Regions from separate parts of the Homo sapiens genome. Here region 2 is linked to region 1. The links come from fine-mapping of genetic effects on gene expression. A gene starts in region 1. The other region holds a variant in brackets. All regions are shown on one strand. Distances are between the middles of the regions.

The links. PIP is the estimated chance that this variant, and not a neighbour inherited with it, causes the effect.
Region 2: its variant is the best candidate, but not a certain one, in a credible set for the expression of HIBADH in adrenal gland (GTEx, PIP 0.83).

What each region holds. Positions count from the first base shown.
Region 1 is chr7:27,660,725-27,665,113 of GRCh38, reverse strand. HIBADH (3-hydroxyisobutyrate dehydrogenase) reads left to right here and starts at 2,231. Exons shown (of 8, transcript NM_152740.4): 1 at 2,231-2,416. The coding sequence starts at 2,326. The region is part of intron 2 of LOC105375211 (a long non-coding RNA gene); the gene reads right to left. RefSeq lists a silencer at 2,042-2,461 and an enhancer at 1,677-2,494.
Region 2 is chr7:27,501,261-27,505,649 of GRCh38, reverse strand. No RefSeq gene overlaps it. Among named protein-coding and RNA genes, the nearest start is that of TSL, 110 kb to the left of the region's middle. The variant A/G (reference allele first, on the strand shown) is at 2,155.

The DNA.
Region 1 (4,389 bases):
TGGTTTTGGCTTCTCCAGCACCCAGTTTGGGGTATATAAGGCTACATGAAAACCCAAGGAACTTCCCACCGTGTTGCTCTCTGGACCCTAGCCAGTGTGACTTCTCTCCACCTTTCAAAGTCTCCCTATGTTTATCTTATATATAATGTTGAGTTTTTAGTTGTACTTAGAAGAATAGGGAGAAACCTATCTACTCCATCTTCCTGGAAGCGGAAGTCAGGGGCCACTATAAGGCATTGAAACAATTACAAACAAAAATGCGTGGCAAAGACTCAGGGAGGAGTTGCAGTGCCTTTCAAACAAGGGCATCAGGAGGGCAATCAAATGAAGAAAGCTAACCAGCCATAGGCAGGAACTGCATTTGCCAGTACAATAATATCTGCAAGCACCTTCAAACAGTAAGAATTACTTAAAAATTCATAACGCTTCTTTAAAATCATGGAAACCTATGAAAATTCCTTAGTTTATGAATCAATGTAGGGCTTCTTGGAGGAGACATTGTTGGAGAAGACAATGCAGGGCTTCTTGGAGGAGACACAGTTGAAAGACCAATTGCAGTTCAGGAGTTAATTATAGAAACCTGTAGTGCTGGAGGAAGAAAAAGAAAAAGAAACCTGTAGGCCCACATTTGTTGCCTGCAGGAGATCTATTCCAGCTAAAACCTGACGAAACCAGGAAGAGAGGCACAGGTGGGAAATGCTCCAGAAACTAATTTACCCCTAGTAGGGGTGGGGACCCAAATCTAGGAGAAGGTCTAATTGTTGAAATGAGTTTTTTCTCCCTCCCTCCCTTCGTCCCTTTCCTTCCTTCTTTTCATTTAGTGTTGGGTAGAGGGTTGGGGTGGAGTGATGGTCAAAGAAGGGCATTAACTTCCTCCCAGTTACAGATAGGGACCTTGCACTCTGTACAAGTTTTTAAGTTTTTGGAAACGTTGCCAGCATGCCCAGAAACATGAAAAGAGCCCAGATGGAAATGATCCAATTCCTTTGCTTTCAACTCCATGGGTTACTGAGTTGAAAAAAAGGTCAAAGTCAAATTTTGTTGATTGTGCTACTTAGATTGGGGTTCGCATTTCCCTAGCTACTCCATACACATTCTCTTTCCTGCTGTATTGCCATTCTCCAAAGGCTATAGTCTTGCTTTGGTGTGGTCATGGCTTCCAACCCTTTGGTGGAGTCAGTGGAGATGAGAAGGCCTGCAATTACCCCCAAGGGGTTTACAGACTCAAATATGTACACTAAGCATTGACAGAAGAATGACTAAATGTCTGTCTCTCTGCACCGCGCAGTGGCTCACGCCTGTAATAACCAGCACTTTGGGAGGCCGAGGCGGGCGGATCACTTGACGCCAGGAGTTTGAGACCAGCCTAGGCAAAATGGCGACACCCCGCCTCTACTCAAAGTGCCAAAAAAATTAGCCGGGTGTGGTGGCGCACGCAGGCCTATAGTCCCACCTCACCTACTCCGGAGGCTGAAGCAGGAGAATCACTTGAACCCGGGAGGCGGAGATTGCAGTGAGCCGAGATCGCGCCACTGCACTCCAGCCTGGGTGACAGAGAGACTCCGTCTCCAAAAAAAAAAAAGGTCTTTCTAATACACATACATATACTACTACTTTCTGGATTTTATATTTAGTTTTGCTTACAAAATGGATTTAGGGTGTAGAATTTTCAAAGATTAGAGAAATATGCCTTGAAATAGAAAGTGCAAGTTTCTAGTAACTCTTCCCTTCAAAGATAATGTTACCAACTTCTTTTCCTACTATTTTTAGTATTGAGAAACTGTTGTGTTAAGTAAAATCAAATGAATTTAAAAGTTATTACACACATGGTAGCTTTCTGAGTGTTTTTCAAGCTGCGAGTCAGTTTTGTCCTTTTTAACACGCAGCGGTTGTGGGGACAAGGTTTCCGAGGAGGCGGGAGCGAGCGACGGCCCCCGCCTCCCACACGCCCTCTGCTTTGGTAAACAAGGAGACTCCCGCCCGCAGGCTGTAAATGAGGCACGAGCTTGGGGGCAGCGCCAGGGCGCCTGGCGTCACTGTTCAAAAAGGCCTCTTATTGGTCCTTCGCACAGCTGCGGACCTGGGAATTCTGATTGGTCTGCTTCCCTGTCCGTAAAGGGATTGACAGGCCCTGCCGCGTCAGGCCGCTCCTCTCGGCTCCGCGCTCCTTCCCTCGCGCGTGGGCACCCGCCCCCGAGCGGTGAGAGCGCGTGCGCGCGCGCCCTTCTCCGTGGGCGAGCCAGCCAGTCCCGCTGCACACGCTCGCAGTCTGTGGGCCCTCCGGGAGGCGGCGGAGGTCACCGCGGGGAGAGGGGCGGGCGCAGCATGGCAGCCTCCTTACGGCTCCTCGGAGCTGCCTCCGGTCTCCGGTACTGGAGCCGGCGGCTGCGGCCGGCAGCCGGCAGCTTTGCAGCGGGTAAGGACCTCACGCCTCCTCCCCCTTGTCCTTCTTTCGGCCGCTCGCTTCTTCTGTCCAGACGGCCGAAGAAGTCTTTTCTCGGGAGGCCCTGCGGTTGGGCTGGGGCTTAAAAAACAATATTTTGGCTGGTACTAAAGGCCTGTCCTTTTCTGCGGCCGCCACTCACTCCGCGAGTACCCCCCTCTGCCTTCCCTCCCTTTCTCCCGGGCTCCTGATGAACGGGTTCAGCGCCCTTTTCGGGATTTAGGAAGAGGTGGGGAAGAGCTTGGGCTGAAGAGAAGAGAGTATTTGGGACCCCGGCATGCTGCTTTGGAGTTAGGACTCCGAGGACGTTTGGAGCGCCCAACTCCAGGAGCAACCCGCACTCACCCCAGCGACCCCTGGTCTTTCAGCGCCCCCAGGGTGCACCTTGGGTTGGGGACACACTTGGGCAGCAGGGCCTGATGTTTAACCACCTGAGTCCGAGGGGATGGCCTTATTACACAAGCGGTGGCTGTACAAGCCAGGCAGTAAGTCTTTCAGCAAAGTTTCAGTCACCCTTGACCAGCAAGACGGGCTTCCCCCCTCTACTGTAACCTAAAAAAATGTCATTTTTGTCAAATTATGAACCAAAACACGTTCAGCGTCCTCAAGATTGTGGGCAGAATTAATCCTGCCTCCCTCCTCTCATACCATGGTAAATTGTGGAAGCTAGCCATGAACTTACAAAGAGGCAGTTTTTAGAGCCAGGATGAAGATCCACGGAGATCTAATACAGTCTTTCATACTCCGCACGAGGGACATGAGGCCCCTTGGATGAGTGAATCAGGATATTCCCAGCAAGACCTAGAAAGTTGTTATCAGTTGTTCCTAATTCCTTAACTTTCTATCACACCAGGACTCCTCTTTAATTGAAAAATTGGTTGATTTGTGGGGGCACTGCCGTTGTCTTCCTCAAACTGAAAGTTTGAGAGTTGTAACAATGCATCGTTTAGCAAGATCATACTGAGGATTAATAACAAAAAAAACCTTGGCATTAATTTTTTCTAATCTTTGCTTAAAAAAAAAATAGTGGGTTAGGATTTGAGCCCCTTGGCCCCCCGCCCTTTTTTTTTTTTTTTTTTTTTTTTGAGACAGGGTCTCTGTCGCCCAGGCTGGAGTGCAGTGGCCCAGTCACACTGCTCACTGCAGTCTCGACCTCCTGGGCTCAGGTGATCCTCCCACCTCAGCCTCCCGAGTAGCTGGGATTACAGGCATGTGCCACCACGCCCGTCCAATTTTTGTATTTTTAGTAGGGACGGAGTTTCGCCATGTTGCCCAGGCTGGTCTTGAACTCCTGCGCTCAAGTGATCCTCCCAAAGCGTTGGGATTATAGGCATGAACCACTGTGGCTGGCCAGGAATTGTAAGAACTTTCTCTTACAATTCTTAACAGCTTCCCATTCTCCCCCTCAGTGAAACCTCTGAATTTCCTTTCTGGCTGGAGAAGAACAGAGGCTCGGTGAGATGCAAGAGACCAGATGTCTGATACAGAACCACAGTAACAAGATAAAAACTCAGAATATGCCAAACTTGAATGTAACCACTGTTTGAGCTTCATATATTGAGCTACAAAAATGCTTCCGACTTTTGAGATAACCCTAAAAGAATAGACACTTTTCCACAGTAGCACCAGTTTTCACATGAATTCACAATTCTTTCAGTTCCCATTAGCCAAGGAAGACATATTTGCTGTTTAGTGGTTTTACAAGGTGTTCTAATGGTATTTTAATGAACCCTTGATGTACCTTTTAGAGTTATGAAAGTTCTTACCAATTCATGGTGAAAGAGCCTGAGGCCTAAGACTGTAATACGTGCCTCTGTAAACTGGGAGGGCCTACCTCAGAGTGCTGATTAGACTACTTTGGCATATGGTCTTGTACTTTGGGTTCTTTGGCCCAAAGGTAATTGTCAGAATATAGATTTCTGATAAATTTTAAATAGTTCTTTTGT
Region 2 (4,389 bases), 160 kb after region 1:
ATATACATTTTTTTCAGCACCACACCACACCTATTCCAAAATTGACCACATACTTGGAAGTAAAGCTCTCCTCAGCAAATGTAAAAGAACAGAGATTATAACAAACTACCTCTCAGACCACAGTGCAATCAAACTAGAACTCAGGATTAAGAATCTCACTCAAAACCGCTCAACTACATGGAAACTGAACAACCTGCTCCTGAATGACTACTGGATACATAACAAAATGAAGGCAGAAATAAAGATGTTCTTTGAAACCAACGAGAACAAAGACACAACATACCAGAATCTCTGGGACACATTCAAAGCAGTGTGTAGAGGGAAATTTATAGCACTAAATGCCCACAAGAGAAAGCAGGAAAGATCCAAAATTGACACCCTAACATCACAATTAAAAGAACTAGAAAAGCAAGAGCAAACACATTCAAAAGCTAGCAGAAGGCAAGAAATAATTAAAATCAGAGCAGAACTGAATGAAATAGAGACACAAAAAACCCTTCAAAAAATTAATGAATCCAGGAGCTGGTTTTTTGAGAGGATCAACAAAATTGATAGACCGCTAGCAAGACTAATAAAGAAAAAAAGAGATAAAAATCAAATAGACACAATAAAAAATGATAAAGGGGATATCACCACCAATCCCACAGAAATACAAACTACCATCAGAGAATACTACAAACACCTCTACGCAAATAAACTAGAAAATCTAGAAGAAATGGATAAATTCCTTGACACATACACTCTCCCAAGACTAAACCAGGAAGAAGTTGAATCCCTGAATAGACCAATAACAGGAGCTGAAATTGTGGCAATAATCAATAGCTTACCAACCAAAAAGAGTCCAGGACCAGATGGATTCACAGCCGAATTCTACCAGAGGTACAAGGAGGAACTGGTACCATTCCTTCTGAAACTATTCCAATCAATAGAAAAAGAGAGAATCCTCCCTAACTCATTTTATGAGGCCAGCATCATCCTGATACCAAAGCTGGGCAGAGACACAACCAAAAAAGAGAATTTTAGACCAATATCCTTTATGAACATTGATGCAAAAATCCTCAATAAAATACTAGCAAACCGAATCCAGCAGCACATCAAAAAGCTTATCCACCATGATCAAGTGGGTTTCATCCCTGGGATGCAAGGCTGGTTCAATATATGCAAATCAATAAATGTTATCCAGCATATAAACAGAACCAAAGACAAAAACCACACGATTATCTCAATAGATGCAGAAAGGGCCTTTGACAAAATTCAACAACCCTCATGCTAAAAACTCTCAATAAATTAGGTATTGATGGGACGTATCTCAAAATAATAAGAGCTATCTATGACAAACCCACAGCCAATATCATACTGCATGGGCAAAAACTGGAAGCATTCCCTTTGAAAACTGGCACAAGACAGGGATGCCCTCTCTCACCACTCCTATTCAATATAGTGTTGGAAGTTCTGGCCAGGGCAATTAGGCAGGAGAAGGAAATAAAGGGTATTCAATTAGGAAAAGAGGAAGTCAAATTGTCCTTGTTTGTAGACGACATGATTGTATATCTAGAAAACCCCATTGTCTCAGCCCAAAATCTCCTTAAGCTGATAAGCAACTTCAGCAAAGTCTCAGGATACAAAATCAATGTACAAAAATCACAAGCATTCTTATACACCAACAACAGACAAACAGAGAGCCAAATCATGAGTGAACTCCCATTCACAATTGCTTCAAAGAGAATAAAATACCTAGGAATCCAAATTACAAGGGATGTGAAGGACCTCTTCAAGGAGAACTACAAACCACTGGTCAACGAAATAAGAGGATACAAACAAATGGAAGAACATTCCATGCTCATGGGTAGGAAGAATCAATATCGTGAAAATGGCCATACTGCCCAAGGTAATTTACAGATTCAATGCCATCCCCATCAAGCTACCAATGCCTTTCTTCACAGAATTGGAAAAAACTACTTTAAAGTTCATATAGAACCAAAAAAGAGCCCACATTGCCAAGTCAATCCTAAGCCAAAAGAACAAAGCTGGAGGCATCATGCTACCTGACTTCAAACTATACTACAAGGCTACAGTAACCAAAACAGCATGGTACTGGTACCAAAACAGAGATATAGACCAATGAAACAGAACAGAGCCCTCAGAAATAACGCC[A/G]CATATCTACAACTATCTGATCTTTGACAAACCTGACAAAAACAAAAAATGGGGAAAGGATTCCCTATTTAATAAATGGTGCTGGGAAAACTGGCTAGCCATATGTAGAAAGCTGAAACTGGATCCCTTCCTTACACCTTATACAAAAATCAATTCAAGATGGATTAAAGACTTAAACGTTAGACCTAAAACCATAAAAACCCTAGAAGAAAACCTAGGCATTACCATTCAGGACATAGGCATGGGCAAGGACTTCATGTCTAAAACACCAAAAGCAATGGCAACAAAAGCCAAAATTGACAAATGGGATCTAATTAAAGAGCTTCTGCACAGCAAAAGAAACTACCATCAGAGTGAACAGGCAACCTACAAAATGGGAGAAAATTTTCGCAACCTACTCATCTGACAAAGGGCTAATATCCAGAATCTACAAAGAACTCAAACAAATTTACAAGAAAAAAACAACCCCATCAAAAAGTGGGAGGACATGAACAGACACTTCTCAAAAGAAGACATTTATGCAGCCAAAAAACACATGGAAAAATGCTCACCATCACTGGCCATCAGAGAAATGCAAATCAAACCACAATGAGATACCATCTCACACCAGTTAGAATGGCAATCGTTCAAAAGTCAGGAAACAACAGGTGCTGGAGAGGATGTGGAGAAGTAGGAACACTTTTACACTGTTGGTGGGACTGTAAACTAGTTCAACCATTGTGGAAGTCAGTGTGGCGATTCCTCAGGGATCTAGAACTAGAAATACCATTTGACCCACCCATCCCATTACTGGGTATATACCCAAAGGACTATAAATCATGCTGCTATAAAGACACACGCACATGTATGTTTATTGCGGCATTATTCACAATAGCAAAGACTTGGAACCAACCCAAATGTCCAACAATGATAGACTGGATTGAGAAAATGTGGCACAGATACACCATGGAATACTATGCAGCCATAAAAAATGATGAGTTCACGTCCTTCGTAGGGACATGGATGAAACTGGAAATCATCATTCTCAGTAAACTATCGCAAAAACAAAAAACCAAACACCGCATATTCTCACTCATAGGTGGGAATTGAACAATGAGAACACATGGACACAGGAAGGGGAACATCACACTCTGGGGACTGTTGTGGGGTGGGGTGAGGGGGGAGGGATAGCATTGGGAGATATACCTAATGCTACATGACGAGTTAGTGGGTGCAGCGCATCAGCATGGCACATGTATACATATGTAACTAACCTGCACATTGTGCACATGTACCCTAAAACTTAAAAAAAACAAAGAAAAACAAATCTCTTCAACTAAGATGACTGTAATTCCACCATTAAAGGCCTACTTTAATGAAAAAAAAAAAAAAAAAGAAAACGTGGTATGAACCATGGAATACTATGCAGCCATAAAAAAGAATGAAATGATGCCCTTTGCAGCAACATTGATGCACCTGGAGGCCATTATCCTAAGTGAACTAATGCAGAAATAAAACCAAACATTGCATGTTCTTATAAGTGGGAGCTTAACAATGGGTACTCATGGACATAAGGAGGAGAACAGTAGACACTGGGGACTGCTAGAGGCGGGAGAGAGGGACAAGGAAAAGGGCTGAGAATCTACCTATTAGGGATTGTGCTCATTACCAGGGGGATGGGTTCAGTCATACCCCAAACCTCAGAGTCATGCAATAGGCCTCTGTAACAATCCTGCACGTGTACCCCTGGATTCTAAAATAAAAGTTGAAAAAGAAAAAAAAAGAAGAATTGGTTAGGAGAATAAGCATTTTATCAATTGAAAATAAACTTGAAAGGGATCCTTAATATTTTGCCCACTCAGGGTAAACCTTCACTGCACTAACAATTTTCAGCTAAAGGCCCTAACTAAATTCTGCCACCTGGGCAAACTCTAGTCCGATGATATTCAAAGAAATTAAACCATTTTAAAAACTTAAAAAAAAAAACAAAAAACTAAGCCTTTTGATGCTACAACAAGATAACATTATGGAAGCCCTGCAGCCTAGTTCAACAGGCACTGCTGAGAGCTCACTGCAGTCATAAATAGAGGTGATTCGGTTTGCACAATGTCTTTCTGCTGGTCAGGCCCCTCCTTTCCTTTGTTTCTCCCTCCTGGCCAGTGAGACTCATTCCCCTGCCTCCACTCTGTCCCCTCTGGCCTAATCCACACACAGTTGCCACTTGGCCTTCCTGGAGGCACAGCTCCAACCACAGAC